Regions from separate parts of the Homo sapiens genome. Here region 2 is linked to region 1. The links come from fine-mapping of genetic effects on gene expression. A gene starts in region 1. The other region holds a variant in brackets. All regions are shown on one strand. Distances are from middle to middle.

Region 1 (10,208 bases):
GCCATAAAACCACCAGGGTTATAGGCCGGGTGCAGTGGCTCACGCATGTAATCCCGGCACTTTGGGAGGCTGAGGTGGGAGGATCATGAGGTCAGGAGATCGAGACCATCCTGGCTAACACGGTGAAACCCCGTCTCTACTAAAAATACAAAAAAATTAGCCGGGCGTGGTGGCGGGCGCCTGTAGTCCCAGCTACTCGGGAGGCTGAGGCAGGAGAATGGCAGGAACCCGATCGCGCCACTGCCCTCCAGCCTGGGCGACAGAGCGAGACTCCGTCTCAAAAAATATATAAAAATAAATTAAAAACCACCAGGATTGCTGAACACGGCTTAGCGGGCACAGCCAGGAGTCACGTGTCCTCCGTCACTCCCACGGACAGAGGGGCGCCTAGCGACGGTGCGGCTGAGCTCGGGGCCGACTCTGCCCAGGCCCACTCGACGTCTGGGCCTTCCCCACGCGGCGTGGCCACAGCCCGCTTCTCCTGGACAGCCGCTCATCACCCTCGTCCCAGCAAGATCAGGTCCGCACGCTCTGGCTCAGGCCTCCAACACAGGGCAAAGGGAAGGCGGGAGGCGCAAAGGGACGGCCCAGAGCCGGCCTGCGCCGCTGGATCTGCAGACTGGGCGCTTGTCTCCCCACCTCCCTGCATGCACCCCTGCTTGCTTTCAGGCAGGAGGGTCTGTGGGTCGGGGGAGTCAGGTGATGCTTCGCACACGAAGTCCTGCAGCCCCAGCTCCAGAGGAGGGTGGCCTCTGGCCCAGAAGCTAGGACTCACCATGGCCTGAGCTTGTTGACGCTGCCATGGTCAACGCAGCAGGGCAGGCCCCAGAAGAAGGGGGCATCCCTCCTCACCGTTTAAAGCAAATTATCAAACAGACACAAAAATCTCCTCAGTCAGTCATCTTCAAAGAGTTCCATCTTGTTGCTTTTTTTTTATTTTTAATCTACCCTCTGCTTTTTTTTTCTTTGCTGGAGGTTTTTGTTGTTTTTTTTTTGAGACAGAGTCTCACTCTGTTGCCCAGGCTGGAGTGCAGTGGTGTGATCTGGGTTCACTGCAACCTCCACCTCCTGAACTTTCGATCCTCCTGCCTCAGCCTCTCGAGTAGCTGGGATTACAGGCACCCACCACCACGCCCGGCTAATTTTTGTGTTTACAGTAGAGAAGGGGTTTCACCATGTTGGCCAGGCTGGCCTCAAACTCCTGACCTCAAGTGATCCTCCCACCTCGGCTTCCCAAAGTGCTGGGATTACAGGTGTGAGCCACTGTACCCTGCGTGCTGGAGTATTTTTAAAGCCAACTCCAGACTTCATATCATTTTACCCATAAGTACTCTTCTCTTTTGTCAAATAAAAAACAAATCAGGGCCATGCACAGTGGTTCATGCCGGTAACCCCAGTGCTTCGGGAGGCCGGGGCAGGAGGACTGCTTGAGCCCAGGAATTTGACACCACCTAGGCAACATAGCAAGACCCCCATCTCTACAAAAACTAAAAAATTAGCCAGGTGTGGTGGCACATGCCTGTGGTCCTAGCTACTCAGGAGGCTGAGGTAGAAGGATCACTTGAGCCCGGAAGTTCCAGGCTGCAGTGAGCCAAGTTCACACCACTGCACTCCAGCCTGGGTGACAGAAAAAGACCCTGTCACAAACCAGAAAAAAAAAAAAAAAAAAGCAAATCTCCAATGCGTAGAAGCAGAAAGTAGAAGAGTGGTTGCCAGGAGCAATAAATAAATAAATTGAGAGCGTTTTAAAAAATCTAGACTTGGTACTGTTTCTGAAAGGATGATTGCAAGTGTGTCAGACCGGTGAGGTCTCAAGAGTTGGGCAAAACGCGGTTTTCTTGTGTGCAGTGGAGCAGCAGGTGTGGGGAGGGGGGGTGGGGGGCCTGTTGACCAGGCAGCAATGCGAGAAAGCTGCATCTGAACCCCTGCCCAGGCTGAGGCTGGGCACGCAGTCAAGGCCCTGGTAGAGACTTAACCAGAACTGGTCACTGGGCCCATGGTCAGGGCCCTGGAGGAGACTTAACCAGAACTGGTCACTGGGCCCACGGTCAGGGCCCTGGAGGAGACTTAACCAGAACTGGTCACCAGTGTATTTGGTTCCAATTAGAACAACAGTTCAGTTACATATTTATGAGGCAAAAGACAGGACTTTGGAGGATGTGTCCAGCCTTGTCACAGGTAAATAAGGGACATCATGAATCTCATCTTTGTCACCTGGGGACAGGGTTCTGAGCTGTTTCCAGAACATAAAGGGGGGGACTTCCTAACCTCCCAGGATCATAGGGCTCAGGTAAAGCTTATCTGTCAATTTTCCTTAAAAATAATCATTACTGTTATATATTATTATGTATGTATATACACACACACCTCAGATGAGGGCTTGACTCTCCCTGAAATATTAACACACCCTTTCCACCTATAACATTGCCCCCTCGCCGCCGATTTCTGTCTCCAGCCCTCTGCTGAAAATCAGGCCACGGGTTCCACAGCCTGGCTGCACAATGCGGTCCATGGGCCAGAGCAGGGCCTCCTGCTAGCAGGTTGGAAATGCAGCGTCCCAGTCCCCAGCCAGCTCTGCAGCACCAGGACCCACAGGTCTCTGGCAAGACCTGTCCTCCCCTCAGGGCTAGAGTCGCACTGCACTGGAATTTCCTGCAGTGAGATTTGGGTGACCCTCCCCACTCCCAGTTGCCCGTCTCCTGTAACCAGGCAGCATGTGGTCAATTGACTGGCTTCAGCCTCCAGGACAGCCTGGAGCTCCGTGGGGTTTGGCACATGCTGTGGCTCCACGAAGATGCCCACGTCATGGTTCATCACTGCTCGGTGGGTTCTGCTGCCGTTATCTTTGTCCTCTGTACTCACATCCCATTTTCTCAGGTCCTCCCGGCCTTGGGGATGCTAGACGTTCCTTCTATCTTGATGGGCACCCCAGAACTGAAGTACTCCTGAAGCCCTTCTAACTTCCAAAGGGCAGCAGCTTCTACAAAAAAAGCAACAAGGGCCAGGCACAGTGGCTCGCGCCTGTAATCCCAGCACTTTGGGAGGCCAAGGTGGGCGGATCACCTGAGGTCGGGAGTTCGAAAACAGCCTGGCCAACATGGAGAAACCCCCGTCTCTACTAAAAATACAAAATTAGTTGGGCGTAGTGGCGCATGCCTGTAATCCCAGCTACTTGGGATGCTGAGGCAGGAGAATCGCTTGAACCCAGGAGGCGGAGGTTGCAGTGAGCCGAGATTGAGCTATTGCACTCCAGCCTGGGCAACAAGAGTGAAACTCCGACTCAAAAAAAAAAAAAAAAAAAAGCAACAAGACGGCTGAATTCCTGAAGGGAGGAGGGGCATCATGGGTGGTGACCCCACAGAGGCCCCCTGGTGTGGCCCCTGAGGCCCCTCAGACTGAAGAGGGCCTCCTGCAAGGGAGCTGGGTCCCCCGGGGGAGGGTGAATTCTGAGTCCCTGAACTGCAGGGCAAGCTGACCCAGAGCTCCAGCACTGCAAAGCCTCCCCCGGAAAGGGCTGTCTGGAGCGGCTGTGGCCAGCACAGTCACTCCTGGGGTGGGTGTGCACCTGGCTTTTGCATCATGGCTGACTGTGCTGGTGGCTTCACAGAAAGGGAGTTTGTGTGAGGATGCTCGGGTGCCTGCTGGGTGCTTGGCACTGGGGTCGGGGGGGCGGTGAATGGAGGCACCTGAGGGACACAGTCCCAGGTGGGAGCTGTCCCAGGTGGGAGCTGTTCCAGATAGGAGCTGCTGTCTCCCAGTCAGGTCCCAGGTTGGGGCTTGGCCAGGCCTGGGCTGGAGCGGGAGACCTTTCTAGCTGCCTCGGTCTGGCTGCCCACCCTGCACAGAGCCTGGGGCTCTGGCCTCTCTGTATCTCTCCTCTCCACTCTTCCTGGAGGGCACCGCTCTTATCTGACCTGCTCCCCCACAGTCTCCCTACATCTGGCCCAAAAATACACTTGGTGGCAGTCCCGCCATCACACTCAGGCTCGGGAGCTGGCGGCCCCTGGTCCGTGCTGCCTGCCACGCTGCTTTCCACGGCAGTGGTGGGAAAGGGAGGTTAGAACCCCATCTCCATGGCCAGAAGGCAGGAATTAGGGAAAAGGGGAGCCGTGAGGCTTCCAGGCCTGGGGTTGGAACAGAAGCTGCGCGGTGTGGGGCGATTTGGGCGCAGGACCCCGGGTGCTGGGAAGTGGGGAGCAGGACTGTGTCTGTTGCTCCAGAAAGCGCGAGGGATGCGATATAGGAAATTCGGGCGTCAGTTAGAGCCCGAGAGGGGTTCAGGGAGTCACTGACTTAGGCAGAGAGGAGCCCAGACGGGGTTCGAAGACCCTGGGGACGGACGCCCACCTGTCAGTCCTGGACTGTGGGGCACCCGTAGGCCGAGGGGCAGGAGGCTATGGCCCTGTCTCCTGGCTTGGGTCTAAACATCCCAAGGAGGTCAGACCGTAGAGTGGGGGCTGTGTGATCTTTCAAATGAGGGACGCCGCGTGTTACCAAAGGCCAGTGCTGAGGAGCTGGGCTGAAAGCTTGGGGAGTTCCCAGAACCAGCAGACTAGGAACGGGAGGAACCGTGTCGGGGGCTCTGCTCCGCTGGGCACTGACCCCCACCCCGCCCCCCGGTCTTGCAAGGGCTGGAGAAGGGTGAAAGGCAGAGGCGGGAGTCCGCACTTAGGGACCGGTCCGTTCCACACGCTGCTGACCAGGCTCCTGGGTGGCGCTCGCATGGAACATTCCGGAAACACCCATGGGAAGGTCCCAAGTTGGTTCCGAAAGGCCCTGACGGACGCGCAGGGGACGCTGAGCCTGTGATCCTCGCCTCACCCAGACGAGGCCGGGCTGCTTCTCACAGGAAAGTGCGTCTGGAGTCCGGGGACGGCCTCCTCCTGGGGCCTGTCCAGGTCGCCCTGGGCCTAAATTACAGGCGGGGAGAGGCCTGTCGGAGGAGCCCCCGCTCCAGACCCCTGGGGGACCCAGGGCGAGGTCGCCCCAGCGCCTCACGTCTGGGGGCTCCCCTTTGCCACGTCGCCAGAGCAAAATTCAAAATCTGCAGTTCTGGCAAATTTCCGGGGCCTCCCGGACACGAAAAGCAGCTGAAATCTCAGGACAATGTCATTGGATGCGGACCGAGAAGAAGCCGTTCGGAACCAGAGCTGCCCCGGATTCTCCCAGGCCTGGCTCGCCGGTGGGGGGACCCCGGTCCCTGGTTTGGGGGGGCAGGAACGGGCGGGCGCCCCTGGGGGCTTCTCATTTGTGTGTTGGTCTCGGCCTTGAAATGCAGCGGAGAAAATAAAAAATAAAATAAAAATAGGAGTCAGGTGTCAGAGTCGGGTCGGCCAGGCACTGAGGTTTGAAGGAATCGCAGAAGAAGCTCCTCTCACCCGGGTCCAGGCCGCGGGGGTTCTGCGGGAGGCGCCCCCGATTCTGCCCGCGGGACGCCGCGGCCTCGGAAGCCCCGGGAGCAGGCCCCGCCCCGCCCCCACCCTCCTCTCTCCCCAAGTCCTCCCGCCCCCCCAGCCCCGCCCCTCCCCCGCCCTGGGTGCTCCCCTGCCCCTCCCCCGGCCCTCCCCCGCCCCTCACCCGCTCCTGCCCCTCCTCTCTCCCCAGGTCCTCCCGCCCCCAGCCCCGCCCCTCCCCCGCCCTGGGTGCTCCCCTGCCCCTCCCCCGCTCCTGCCCCTCCTCTCTCCCCAAGTCCTCCCCGCCCCCAGCCGCCCCTCCCCCCGCCCTGCCCCCCCCCGCCCCCGCCTCCAGCCCCGCCCCTCTCCGCTCCCCGCCCCGCCCCCACGCGCCCGCGGTCCCGCCGGAAGGACTTAAGCGCCCCGGAGCCGGGAGGCGAACTTGGGACCCGCTGGCCTCGCTCGGTGCGCGCCTCCCTCCCCGCATGCAGCCCGCCGAGCGCTCGCGGGTCCCCAGGTGTGTGGCGCGGGGTGCGGGCGTCCCCGGCGGCTGCGGTCCCCGCGCGGGCCCGCGACCCCCCAGAGGAAACTTCGGGGACGCCGGCCTCCTTCTCTCGGTTTTGCAGGATCGACCCGTACGGATTCGAGCGGCCTGAGGACTTCGACGACGCCGCCTACGAGAAGTTTTTCTCCAGCTACCTGGTCACGCTCACCCGCAGGGCGATCAAATGGTCCCGGCTGCTGCAGGGCGGGGGCGTCCCCAGGAGCCGGACAGGTGGGTCCCGGGGGCGCAGGTGGGTCCCGAGGGCGCAGGTGGGTTGGGCTGGGACGGGCCGGGCAAAGTCCGGGCTCCCGGAGCGGAGGGAGGGGGAGGAACCTTTCCGGGCAGGTCGGGACGAAGCTGCGGGCTCCGAGCTAGGGCAGCCGCAGGGACCGGTTTTCCCGCTTTGAGATGGGCCGGCGGGTCGGACGCGAAGGAGACCCGTCCCTCCCAGCAGGGAGCCATATCGGGATGGATCAAAACTCGATCCATGCCGGGCGCGGTGGCTCACGCCTGTAATCCCAGCGCTTTGGGAGGCCGAGGCGGGCGGATCACGAGGTCAGGAGTTTGAGACCAGCCTGACCAACATGGTGAAACCCCGTCTCTACTAAAAATACAAAATTAGCCGGGCGTGGTGGCTCCTGCCTGTAGTCCCAGCTACTCTGGAGGCTGAGGCAGGAGAATCGCTTGAACCCAGTAGGCGGAGGTTGCAGTGAGCCGAGATTGCGCCATTGCACTCCAGCCTGGGCGACAGAGCGAGACTCCGTCCTTGTGACGGGACCCACAGGGCCCTGCTCGACCTGCCGCTCCTCCGCGACCCCAGGCCTCCTACTGCTGCGGTGAGCACCGGCCTGACCGCCCGCCCGCCTCGGGGTTAGCTGCAGGGCCCCCTCCTCCGGGGCGCCCCAGGCTTCCCTGTGCGGAGGGCACCTCCTCATTTCTGCCTTTCCCAGCACAGCCCCTGCTGGAGTCAAAAACCCTTCCTCCCTGCAACGGATTTTTCATTCACTGCTCAGTCCTCAGAACCTGGGGCAGTGCCAGGCGACTTCCCTGTGTGTTCAGTGAATGAATGAAGTGTCTGCCTGGGGTGAGGGCTTGGTGGGAGTGTGCCCTGGAGCTAGGAACTCAGAGAAGTGGGGTCAAAGGGGAGTCCTGGGGGCTTCCTGAGAAGGGGGATGTGAATGGCAGCTGGGCTTCCAGGGACCGAGCAGTAGGGACCTGGTGGGGAAGGACAGAGATGAAACCAGGGGCCCTGCACCTGGGCGGAGGGTCGGAGGTGTGTGGTGACCACGGCCAGGCACAGAGAAGCCAACTGTTAAAGGTTTTCCAGGCAGGGGGTGACAAGATCAACTTTTGCTTTTATTTATTTATTTGAGACAGGGTATCCCTCTGAGTGCAGTGGCACAATCACCACTCACTGTAGCCTTGACCTCCTGGGCTCCAGCCATCCTCCCCTCTCAGCCTCCCGCATAGCTGGGACCACTGGTGTGGCCACCACTCCTGGCTAATTTTTAAATTTTTTATAGAGATGGAAGTTAATATCCTATATGCTTCCCACGAATGCATCATGTCCCATCCCTGTGGCCTCTGCATGTTCACATGTTTCCAGTGGAACGTGTGTCTTTATTTTTCCTTTTCATTTATTCTTTTTGATTTATTTATTTTTGAGACAGAGTCTCACTCTGTCGCCCAGGCTGGAGTGCAGTGGTGCGATCTCAGCTGACTGCAACCTCCACCTCCTGGGTTCAAGTGATTCTCCTGCCTCAGCCTCCTGAGTAGCTGGGATTACAGGTGCACACCACTACACCTGGCTAATTTATTTTTTATTTTCTTATTTTTTTTATTTTGAGACGGAGTCTCACTCTGTCGCCCAGGCTAGAGTGCAGTGGCATGATTTCAGCTCATTGCAACCTCTGCCTCCTGGGTTCAAGCGATTTTCCTGCCTCAGCCTCCCAAGTAGCTGGGATTACAGGCACCTACCACCACGCCAGGCTAATTTTTCTATTTTTTAGTAGAGATGGGTTTTACCATATTGGCCAGGCTGGTCTCAAACTCCTGACCTCAAGGGATCTGCCCACGTTGGCCTCCCAAAATGCTGGGATTACAGGCATGAGCCACTGCGCCTGATTTATTCTTAAAAGTTAACTGTCTTTTAATTTTAAAAAGTAACGTAAAAGTATATAAGACATGTGAACTTAAAAAGCATAATTTATGTACATGGTAAACACTTTAATCATACTGAGGGCTACAAAGTGCAACAGGGAGTTTCTCTCCCACCCATGGCCCCCATCTCCTATAGAGATGACCGCAGGGGACTGTCCTTCCGTCCCCCTCAGGAGCAGAAGTCCACGCTTGGTTCTGCAGTTTGCTTTAAGAGCAGGGGAAGTCCGTGGGAAGTCCTGTGGCTGTGACCTGGAGGTTGGTTACAGCGGAGAATCTGAAAGATGTATGGTTGTGCATAAATTTTTGTTTTTACAGAAAACACAACTGCACAGTCATTCTCCCGTCTTTGCCTTTGCCATTTGGGTCTGTCCTATTGCTGTCCTTTTCTTCGACCAGGAGCTGCTAACTTGGGTTCCATATTTTCCTTTTTAGGGAACCACTCAGCACATTGCCCCCACTTTCCAATATGGACTTGGGAGGGGGTTCTGGGAAGAGCAGGGAAAAGGAAAAGAGCAATCCGGATGCAAAATCCTCCAGATTTTTATTCTTTTCCCCACTCCTTTGCAATTATTTTACACCTAAGTCAACAGTTTTGTTTTTGCTTTTTTTTTTTTTTTTTTTTAGCATTGGTCTCTATCAACTCTTTCTAAAAATTTCATTTTGTTTTTATTGAAGTAACAACTTTCTTCTTTTTGCTTTAATTTTTTTTTTTTTTTTTTTTTTGAGTCAAAGTCTAGCTCTGTCAGCCTGGCTGGAGGGTAGTGGCGCAATCTCGGCTCACTGCAACCTCTGCCTCCCAGGTTCAAGCAATTCTCCTGCCTCAGCCTCCTGAGTAACTGGGATTACAGGCACTCGCCACCATGCCCGGCTAATTTTTGTGTTTTTAGGAGAGATGGGTTTTGCCTTGTTGGCCAGGCTGGTCTCGAACTCCTGAGCTCCAGTGATCCGCCCACCTCAGCCTCCCAAAATGCTGGGATGACAGGCGTGAGCCACCATGCTGGGCTAATTTATGTAATGTTAAGTGGACCATGTAATTATGGTAGCAAGCATCACTGGCATAAATGGGTCTGTGAGCAAATATATCTCTTTGATCCTATATGAGCCTCAGCCTGAGGGGTGGGAGCCACAGGGCTGTGGGCCTGTTCTGCAGGGAGTAGGGATGCTGGTGACTCCGGTGGGAGGCACATGGAGTCAGTGATCGCGTGTCTCTACTGGCCTGGGGCCTGGGTCCCAGTGTGACCGTCAGGGTGCCCATGAGCACTGGCAAAGCCCCAAGAGCAGAGGGTCGGGTATAAAACTGGAGTGGACGAGTTATTCCAAAAATGGGAATACCACTTCTTCCTGCCAGGTATTCCAGGCTGACAGTGATAGAGTTCTTTCCTCTCCTTTTGGAGGGTTTTCATCTGCACTCCCCATGTTAAAGTCTCCAGGAACACAATCATCTACCAATCTCAGCATTCCACATGTCTTAAGGGACAGTTATTATGTATTCTGCCTGATCACACTCTTGGTGGGTACAATAAATATTGTATTTTCCTTTTTCCATAGCAAATATCCACCAGGAGCCCTTAGGAAGACAGCTTCCTCTTCCTCCCTGGAAAGACTAAATTCAACAAACTTAGTCCTGTTGGATTCCTATTTCATTCTCCATCTCGAGAATAGACGTCTGCAGGGAAGCAGCTTCAGGGCCGTTGGCTTCTTTGAGACCTCCTTCCTGGTGGCTTAGAATATTAACACCACCTAAGTTAAATCGAGAAAACATATTTTCAAAGATACACCGAAAAACTGGGGATTTGCCTAACTTTGTCAGGGTAGACAGATGGACGTCAGTTCTCTGGATGTAGCTTCTTTTTAAAAATTTCCCAACTGTTTTGACTTGATATTTTATACTTCTCCAAACATTAGTGATGCTCTGTGCGTTAGCCCTGCCCTTGGGAAAGTGTCAGTCTGTGAGGACAAGTAAACAATTTTCTTTCTTCTATAAAGAAACAGTGTAAATCCAGATAACAAACTTATCAAAAAGTCGCAGAATTCTTTGTTCCGTGAAGCTTCCGGGTGTTGCTCCAACTGCCAGAGCTGCTCGGGGGCCTTGGGTGCAGGCTCGGTGCCTT
Region 2 (10,208 bases), 970 kb before region 1:
GAGGTCCTATTCCAGCCAATGGAAACTGGACACAGCACTAGGGTAGACACATCAGATTATAAGTAACTCTGTCTCCTTTGTTTGGTGTGCTCTTGTGGCTGGACAGCTATTGAGTAGCACCCTTTCTGCAGAAAGTAAAGCTTGCCTTGCTAAGAGATCATTTGTTCCCACATTAATTCTTTTTTATTTTGGAACACCAAAAACTTCATTCCCAACAGCACTCTGAGAAAAGCCAGCCTGATACCTAGATTACAGGGTTCACAGCCTTACAGGTTAGTAAGGAAGGTCATTTCCTGGTAGGCCCAGGAATTTAGGGATATTTGGGGGCCTCAAGAAGAGAGGAATTCACACAAAGCTATAAGGACTGCAGCTGAAATATGATAGTAAGTTCTTAGCTTGGCTTTTAGCCTGAATAAGGCCTTTAAAAGTCAAATCTGAGATTCTGTATGAAAACTTCCAGCAAAGAAGCTTGAAAGCACCTACGTGGTCATCTCCTGTTCTTGATGCACTTACGTAAATAATCAAGCAAAATCTAATAAAACTAGACTTATTTTTGAAACAAGAATAGTCTTACTTTGATTATGATCAAAAATGATGGTTACTACAGAGAGAAATTTTATGTTTCAATGGAAAACTATAACATGGCTGGTCATGGCAGCACACACCTATAATTCCAGCACTTTGGGAGGCCAGGAGTTCAAGACCAGCCTGGGCAACGTGGTGAAACCCCGTCTCTACCAAAAGTACAAAAATTAGATGGGCATGGTGGCATGTGCCTGTAGTCCCAGCTAATCAGGAGGCTGAGGAGGGAGGATCGTTTGCACCCAGGAGGTAGAGGTTGCAGTGAGCTGAGATTGCACCTTGCACTCCAGCCTGGGTGACAGAGCCAGACCCTGTCTCAAAAAAAATTTTTTTAAAGGAAAACTATAGCCATTGTGAGTTATCTGATTCTAGTCTTGTTTCTTGTTTCTGGGCTATTTTTACCTCTTTGTAAACTGGATCCTGCCATCTGCTGAATTTTGTCCCGCAATGATACTTGTGGAACAAGAAGCCAAGTATTGTCTCTTCTACTAATGTATCTATTGTCAGTTAATTTGAAGGTCTCCAATCCTGGAACAAAGTTAGAAGAGGAAGGTTTTGCTCCCCAAAATGCATAACCAAATTGTGGTACATTCATATAATGGAATACTATTTAGCCATAGAAAGGAACAAGCTATCAACTCACACAAAGACATGAGTGAATCTTGCATGCACATTGCTAAGTGGAAGAAAACAGTCTGAGAATACACACAGTGTGACCTCATTTAATGAGACACTGGAGAAGGCAAACTACACAGATGGGAAGCCCATGGATTGTCAGCTTCCCAGATGTGTGAGAATCTCTCCTCCCTTCCCAACATTCTCATGCTCTCCCTCTGCCTCTAGAGAATTTCCTGTCCCATCTCTCATGACAAATCCCTTCTTCATTCTTTATGATGCAGCCCCTTCTGCATCTCCTAGAGCCATCCTCAGCTAAATTTTGTTGTGTGAGTAATGAGAAGAGAGCTGTTATTTGTATTTAGTGAATAATAACAAATAAAAGGCATTTAGCCTTCTGGAACCTGGTATGTAGTAGATCCTCATGAAAAACTAGCTCTGTTGATAAAACTAGACTGAAAGGAGCTTTCAAAGTCAACAACGACATCATGCAGTGAAGGACATAGATGAGAAGCTGCTGCTGCAGCCTGGAGCTCCTGGAGGCCCGTTTTGTCCAGGACTTAGCAGGAATGCACTACCTTTCCATAAGGAGACACTGCCCACAGAAACCAAGGCCATTCTTTGAAGACAAACATGTTTTAATAGCCTTACATTATGTAATGGTGTAATATAAATAATATTATTAAGGTAAAATTATTTACATTATTATGTTACGACTTTTGTACAGAGCTTTACACCTAGATATTCTGAAGTTGGTGGTCTGTGAGTGGCATCAAGTGATGACTGACACACTCTGACCTGGGGTAGAACAACACGTGCCCCTGCAGTTTGCTGAATTTCAGGGCATCACCACCTGATTTCAAGAGTGTGTTTTCCTATCCTCTAGAGTTTTGCCCACTTAAGCAACAGCTTTGCTGCAATACAGAACTCCACAATTTATCAAAATATTAATTTGGAGAATACTGGTTCACCTAGTTCATTTTCAAGTTTTCTTAAACTATCAGGCCCATAGCTAATGCCAGTGGCTCCAAGGATGAGAAGGTAAAAAGCCTTTTTTGTTTTCGTTTTTGGCAAGAGAAAAAAAACACATTTCAAACCTTACTGTCTCATGCTATTCACTGGAAAATCAGAAGTGAACACACTCTCCTCCCAGCCCAATCACAGCTACTAAATAACCAAGATCTCCTGCAGGTGCCTTTGCCTTGGCTTTGTGAGCCTGGAGTTGCTGGCTGACACTGGGCAGCAGGAAGCAGAGCTGGTCCCATTCCTCCGTGCTTTCCCCGTGCTGTGGGGACACAGACACATTGAAAAACCTGGGTCCTGCTCTGGCACTGGCTGGGAAGCTATCTGACGTCAGGCTCATAGTGGACTTCTGAGTTGAAAAGAGAGTATGGGTCACCCAGCCCCACTTACTCATTTTACAAAGAATGAAAATGGGTCTCTATGCCAGACATGAGAGTACACATTGTAAGGCTGTGCAAGCTCGCCGCACTTGTATCCGCTCAGCACACACTTACAGAGTGCCGAGTGTCACCAGCATGAGAGGGGCTCTAGTTCCCGGGGTCCCACCCTCCAAAGAGGACAGCACCACCTCGAGGGACAGAGGTGCAAAGAGCAAGGTGGGGGCCCTTCTGCTGGAGAGGCGGCTAGGGAGGGACCTTACAGGAAGTGACACCTGAGCTCTTCTCTGAAGGATGAAGCTGAATTACTTGGAGCTTAGGGCGAAGGGTTGTCCGGGGAAGTGCAGCCTGTGAGCCAAAAGCACGAGTATAATGACTTGTCCAGAGAAGTGTAACAACTTCCATAGTGTTTCTAGGCCAAATCTGCACAGGAGTCACCACAGGAAAGAGCAGGATCCTGGAGCCAGGGCCTTGGATTTCACCCACTGGCAATGGGAATGTTCACTGGGAATTTTGGGGGGCAAAACATGAAAGTGTTTCCTCTTAAAAATAAATAAATTAAAAATAAATAAAAATAAAAAGGAAAGTGTTTCCTCTTAGCTCCAATTCTCTCTGTCTCTCTCTTTCTGTCCCTCTCTCTCTCCCCTATCTTTAATTTGTGTATTATCATAAGAAAACACAGATGTGTCAGATGTGGGGATTAGCAGCCTGCATCTTTCTGGATGACTTGAGGGGAGCACTGTGGCCTCTGTGAGCTTATTTACAATAATTCACGAATCTTGCAAAAAAAAAAAAAGTCATGGCAGCAGAGGTTAGAAAATCTCCTAGTATTTCTTCTGATACTTTGAATTTATGATTAATATGTTTAATCTTCATCTTCTGAAAAGTCACCAGTTGCACAGTGAGGACCATAAAGGGCTTCTGTTTCTGCGGTTTGTGGCTTCAACAGTCAGTGGTTTTGCAGCAGTAGCACTGCATGTGGGTTTTAGGCTGATGATGCTCAACAGTGGACAATTCTCTTCACCTGCCTGAACCCCAATGCCCACCCTTTCATACGGTGCGGGGTCACAGCTGAGCTCTCCAAGACACCTCACAGGATCTCGGTTTCTGAACTGTCGGGTGTCTTCTAGGTGAAGGCTTCATCTCATAGCCTCTGTGGCTTCCTCCAGGTAACACTTGGTTTTTTGACCTAACCCTGGTATTTGTGTGACATATGTGTGAATGTGCTCCCTGTGGCAGCACTGAGGAAAGACTCAGTCATCATAGATGCCGAAAGGCAAACGCATCTCCAGTCTTGCATTATTTTTACCCATCAGCCCATTTGAAAAAGAAAAAAAAAAGCCTCGTGTTATAATTAAATCCCCTCTAGAGGTAATGGGCATTTTTTAAATCTTTCATTTTTTTTATAGTCACATTTGCGCCCAGTGCCTGCCAGGATCCACTAGAGGGCAGAGACACCCATGTGTATTTGTGTGGCACTTGCTGAGTGGTAATAAAAACAGACACCCTGCCCTCCAGGAGCCAACATCCAGTGCCAGGGCCAGCGGCAGCAAGTAAGAAAACCTTGGTTTCCACATCTGCATCAGCTACACAGTGCTCGCACACAGGAGGCATCAGTCAGTTTTCTCAGTTACAGAGAGAAACAAAACGTGTCCTCACTACTTTTTGAATTTACCATGTTATCCAATGTTTTAACTTAATTGAATGAATAAACTCCTTATGTATCTGGACACATGCATGGAAAATTCACAAACATTTCAAAACAAAATAGAGTGGTTTGCTAAAAGAAAATTTCTTTGATACGTGAATTTCACTTTTTTCTATCTTTTAGTGATTTTAATGTAATGAAATTGAGAAGTCTGTGCCTCTAAAAGACTTTTTAAAGAGCACGGTACTTCTCCATTTTGAAAAAAAATTGGCAAAATATCTTCTACTGTAGATAGAAGTTAATTGGCTGAGGGTAATAAACAGAAGATTAAAAAATGAGCTTTATCCCCTGCTATTCTGTCAAGGGCTACAGTGAATTACACACCCTGGCATGGGTTTGCACGACACGTGCTGGAAGCCAGCAGTCATGCAGGCCATGCTCTCCCACACTTAGAAAAAAAGCCCAGGAGAAAGAGCTCCATCAAGTTCACACACAATGACCTCCAGCAAGATGTGGAAAATGCTCAGTTCCACAAAATACCTGTGGCCAAATACTTTGAGCGCACTGCTCTGGCATCAGGTTCCTGTGACGACAGACCCTGAGATGCATTTCTGGATGGAGGCTGCTGCCAGAGGAGACAATGTGACTACAGGTGGCTCACGCTGCTCCAACACTGCAGGGGCCAGTGACTTGGGGCTCCCACCCGCTGTCCTGTTGGGGAACTGCGGAGATTCACCCCAGCTGGGTGGACTCTGCTGTGTCCCCTGTCAAGAAGCCCCTCAGCTTACCTTGGTTTTTCCTTTTTAAAACTCTCTGGTGTTTTTCTCTCCAGTGGGGGCTGCATCTCACCTTAGAAGAAAAGATTTTCCAACTAGGGGCTGTCTTGGTAGCTGGTACAGAGGAAGGTCTCTCTCTGGAGTGAAGTCCAGCCAACTAACTCCAGCCAGAACTCTCACTGAGTGGGGCTGGATCTGCCCTGTTCTCCTCCCATCCTCGTGTGGACTGTGGAAACCCATCCATGCCCTATGCAAAGTCCAGCATCTTGGACTGTAAAATGGCAAAAGCCGAATTTAAAATAGATGATTATGTTGACTCTATGAGGAAAAGAAAGTTCTGAGGTAGACAATTGGTAAGCAAGCAATTATGTGTAACTTGTTAGAACACTAGGGTGTAGTTTATTCGTCTCACTGATTATTTTCTGTTTAACAGGCTAGCTAAGAGCCAGAGGGAGAGAAGGCTGGCTGGGAATTGAGAGGCATGAGGTCACCTCAGTCCCAACATTTCCATGTAAACAATGATGCGAGGTGGGCTGATGGCAGGAGTCCCTGGAAATTCTCACAATCTCAGCTCTTAACTTCTGTAAAATATTATGTCATTTATGATCTCTTTAACAAATAACTTTTTTCTAGTTAAAAAAAGTGTATAATCTCTTTGGAGGATCTTTGGTAAATATAAAATGAGTTATCAAAGAAAAAAATTATTCATAATTTTATCACTCAAATTTTGATAATTATATTCCTGCATTTTTAACTAAACATAGAAATTTTAGATTATACTGTACATAAAATATTGTATCTGTTTTTCATCCAAT[A/T]TTAGATTATAAACGTTTTACATGGCATAAACTATATATGTAAATCAGCTATTTCCACACCTGCTTGATTTAACCCTCCTTATACTATTAGCCATTTAAATGATTTCTACTTTATCCTATGAATAACACTTCCACCAGTTATTATTCTTGTATATAGCTCATTCAATCACTCATAATCTCGTTGAGCATTTATTTATAATTTAGTTGCCTATTACCTGAGTGGACTGTGGTTATATGTTTATATGCTTATTCCAAATATATTGCTAAGATTAGCATTAGAGACAGGAAAATATTCACGGGTTTTGAAACTAGAAGGACCCAAACAAATCCATGAACCAGCTCTGCATACTCTCACCGAGCCTTAGTTTTCTTACACAGAAAGTGAAGACAATGCTATTTGCCTTGTGGCATCTCTGTGAAGTTAAAGAAGACACCGATTGTACACGCAGCAGTACAAGGACAGTGGAAAGCTGGGCCCTAACCAGCTCTAGGGACAATCACCATTGAATGCCCCATGATCCTACTCTCAGGATGCTTGTATGCCATATGCCATGTCAGTATCACTTACTCAGTGAACACATATTTGTTGATTATAAATTACTTCCGTACTCTTTTCTTTGTTTTACATGTTCAAATATCTGTAAAAAAAAAAAAAAAAGGTACAATTATGAAATTAAAAGTTAACTAAAGGGGGATGTTTTCACTATCTCTGAAATTTAACCCACTAAATCCAGATTATAAAGCAAGGAAATGTCTTACGGCCCAACACTTGCCATCCATATTTTTTCAAAGTTAGTGGGCAGGGCAGGGTAGTGGAAGTGAAGGAATCAGAGCTCTGATGGGTGCACATTGTCTTCCCTACAAATCCATTGCTTGTCTGGCCTTCCTTCCTTATTGGGGCTGCTCTATCCTTTTCGGCACATTTGAACTGCTCCCCTGTGAGCTATTCTCATTTGCTTCACTTCTAAATCTGAATTCCATGGGACCCGCATTTAAGGAGAGGGGAACCACTTTGGGACTGGAGGAAGTTCACCTTATGAGTTATACCTGCCTCCTTCCTCTACAGTGAACGGTCTCTGGTGTCCCTGGGTGTTCAGTTTCTTTACACTCATGTGTTACTGACTGTTCAGGTGGCAAATGGCCCATGACCTTTATGGTATTAAAGAGAAAAAAATAAAAAGCTGTGTTCCTTTTTTTTTTTTTTAACTTTTATTTTAGGTTGGGGGGTATATGGGAGGGTTTGTTATACAGGTAAACACGTGTCACAGGGATTTGTTGTACATGTTATTTCATCATCCAGGTATTAAGCCCAGTGCCCAATAGTTATCTTTTCTGCTCCCCTCCCTCCTCCCACCCTCCCCCCTCAAGTAGACCCCAGTGTCTTTTGTTTCCTTCTTTGTGTTCACAAGTTCTTATCATTTAGCTCCCATTTATAAGTGAGAACATGCTGTATTTGGTTTTCTGTTCCTGCATTAGTTTGCTAAGGATAATATCCTTCAGCTTCATCCATACTAATGCAAAAGACATAATCTTGTTCTTTTTTATGGCTGCATAGTATTCCATGGTGTATATGTAGCACATTTTCTTTATCCAGTCCATGATTGATGGGCATTTGGGTTGATTCTATGTCTTTGCTATTGTGAATAGTGCTGCAATGAATATTTGCATGCATGTATCTTCATGGTAGAATTATTTATATTCATCTGGGTATATATCCAGTAATGGGATTGCTAGGTCGAATGGTAGTTCTGCTTTTAGCTCTTTGAGGAATCACCATACTGCTTTCCACCATGGTTGAATTAACTTACACTCCCACCAACATTGTATAAGTGTTCACTTTTCCCTGTAACCTTGCCAGCATCTGTTGGTTTTTTACTTTTTAGTAATAGGCATTCTAACTGGTGTGAGATGGTGCCTCACTGTGGTTTTGATGAGCATTTCTCTAGTGATCAGTGATCTAGAGCTTTTTTCTATAAGCTTGTTTACCACATTTATCTTTTTTTTTTTTTTTTTTGAGCCGGAGTCTTGCTCTGTCACCCAGGCTAGAGTGCAGTGGCGCGACCTCAGCTAACTGCAAGCTCTGCCTCCTGGGTTCATGCTATTCTCCTGCCTCAGCCTCCCAAGTAGCTGGGACTACAGGCGACCACCACCACACCCGGCTAATTTTTTGTATTTTTAGTAGAGACGGGGTTTCACCATGTTAGCCAGGTTGGTCTCAATCTCCTGATGTCATGATCCACCTGCCTCAGCCTCCCAAAGTGCAGGAATTACAGGCGTAAGCCACCACACCCGGCCCACATGTTTGTCTTCTTTGGAGAAGTGTCTCTTCATGTCCTTGGCCCACTTTTTAATGGGGTTGTCTTTCTCTTGTAAATTTGTTTAAGTTCCTTATAGATGCTGGATATTAGACCTTTGTCAGATGCATAGTTTGTAAATACTTTCTTCCAATCTGTAAGTTGCCTGTTTACTTTGTTGATAGTTTCTTTTGCTGTGTAGAAGCTCTTTAGTTTAATTAGATCCCACTCGTCAATTTTTGCTTTTGTTGATATTGCTTTTGGTGTCTTTGTCACGAAATCTTTGCCTGTTCTTATGTCCAGGATGGTATTGCCTAGGTTGTCTTCCAGGGTTTTTATATTTTTGGGTTTTACACTTAAGTCTTTAATCCATCCTGAGTTCATTTTTGTGTATGGTGTAAGAAAGGGGCCCAGCTCCCAGCACCATTTATTGAACGGGGTCTTTTCCCCATTGCTTGTCAGAAAAGCTGTTTCTAAGGCTTTGCCCAACATACCTTTAACTTTTGACCACATCTTTCCCCCGGTCAATAGGCTCCAGGAAATGGGACAGGATTCTTGGAAATAAAGAGCTGACCCTGAGACAACGCAGGTGAACACAGACTAGCTGCTGCATAATAAGTAAACAAAATGTGTGTCTTTCATTCAATATTAAACAATGATAGACTGAGTATGTAAGAATGTTACCATCACAGGTATGGAAGTGCCTAACTATGACTTAAATTGTAGAGCCTCAGATTTTAGATCTGGAAGAGCCATGGGTTTTAATCCATGCTGGGAGAGGCTCAAGGTTACTCTGGAGAAACATGTAGTTTGGGGGGGCTGGAGACTGAGGGGAGGCTGGAGACTGAGGGGTGGGCTCCCATTCCCCAGCTCCTTCAATGAATCTATTTTATACGTCAGTTATTGGAAAATGATTCAAACAACTCAACCCAATTCCCTATTATTTGGTCAAAGCCCTCAGCCCTCAGACTTCTTGCCACTGTAGCTGTGGGCTCCCCCTCTCCACCTGCTTTCCTGCTCAGGTTGGGGCAGCCAAAGACTTTCTCTTCCTGGGGAGAGAGTTTAGGGAGGGACCATTTTTTGATTATTTGAGGGTGTGGTTCAGTTGTAAACAGTATAAGTTTTAGAATTTGTGTTATTGTGATGGCAATGACCAACTGCAAAATATTTCCCATTTGCCTTGTCATAAGAGCACGTATTTTATGCAATTGAAGTTTTTGGATCCTACTTATTTACTTTACTTTATTAAGAATAGTGACATTTGAGCAGAGTTCTAATTTTGCATCAGAGTCAAAAGTGAAAATGAAAGGAACTGACCCATGAAGGAACAGGTGTGAGCTATTTACTTCATTCCTGCCCGTCCTGGTTGATGTTGAGCTCTTGCCCTGCATCCCACTTTCAAATGTGGTAGAGGCCTCACCTAGGAAAGACCCTCTCCACGCTGGCTTGCTCTGCTCACCCAACTGTACTTACTTCTCTGAATCCCCTATGAACACTGTTTTCTAGGTTGAGTGTGTTTTCTGTAATAAAAAGGTATTGTTGCACCACTTACTGAGGACTTTTTGGATGCCATGCTAAGCATTTCATAGTCACGAGCTCATTGTACAAACTACCCTTTATAACACTCCTATGAATTTATATTCCCATATGAATTGGCCTGAGGAAGTGGCGTGCTGGAGAGATTAAGTAATTGAATGACAGCATACAGTTAATTACTGAGGGGATTTGGGTTTGGACCTGGATCTGTGATTCAAACACTCATGTCTATAACCACAAGTGCTGCCACATCATTTGCATCAGGATTTAGAATCCCTGCTGGCAGGCCTGGGAAGATGCATTGTAACCAGATAAGAGATAATTACCACATTTACTGAGTTGTGAGAACCACTGTACTGCCTCTGAGAGAATGCCAGGCGCCCCTGTGTTTGTCTCAGTGTCTCCAGCTTGAATTGCTTCACCCCTGGCTCTCGGCAATGCTGCTCCTCTCTCCTGCATGGATCACCTGCTCCTGGAATTCATTCTCCCATTTCTTAGGTTGCCACTTTACTGTAGCTTCCTAATCGAAGGTAAAGCTTTGA

The links. PIP is the estimated chance that this variant, and not a neighbour inherited with it, causes the effect. A credible set is the group of variants that fine-mapping cannot tell apart.
Region 2: its variant is the best candidate, but not a certain one, in a credible set for the expression of GRTP1 in esophagus muscle (GTEx, PIP 0.55).

What each region holds. Positions count from the first base shown.
Region 1 is chr13:113,359,722-113,369,929 of GRCh38, reverse strand. GRTP1 (growth hormone regulated TBC protein 1) reads left to right here and starts at 5,800. Exons shown (of 8, transcript NM_024719.4): 1 at 5,800-5,910; 2 at 6,020-6,168. The coding sequence starts at 5,879. GRTP1-AS1 (GRTP1 antisense RNA 1) reads right to left here. Exons shown (of 2, transcript NR_120385.1): 2 at 8,062-8,371. RefSeq lists enhancers at 2,159-2,852, 3,547-4,240, 4,241-4,934 and a silencer at 5,922-6,216.
Region 2 is chr13:114,333,823-114,344,030 of GRCh38, reverse strand. LOC112268113 (a long non-coding RNA gene) reads right to left here and starts at 5,684. Exons shown (of 3, transcript XR_007063890.1): 1 at 5,034-5,684; 2 at 985-1,110. LINC01054 (long intergenic non-protein coding RNA 1054) reads left to right here and starts at 10,083. Exons shown (of 3, transcript NR_126391.1): 1 at 10,083-10,196. The variant A/T (reference allele first, on the strand shown) is at 5,837.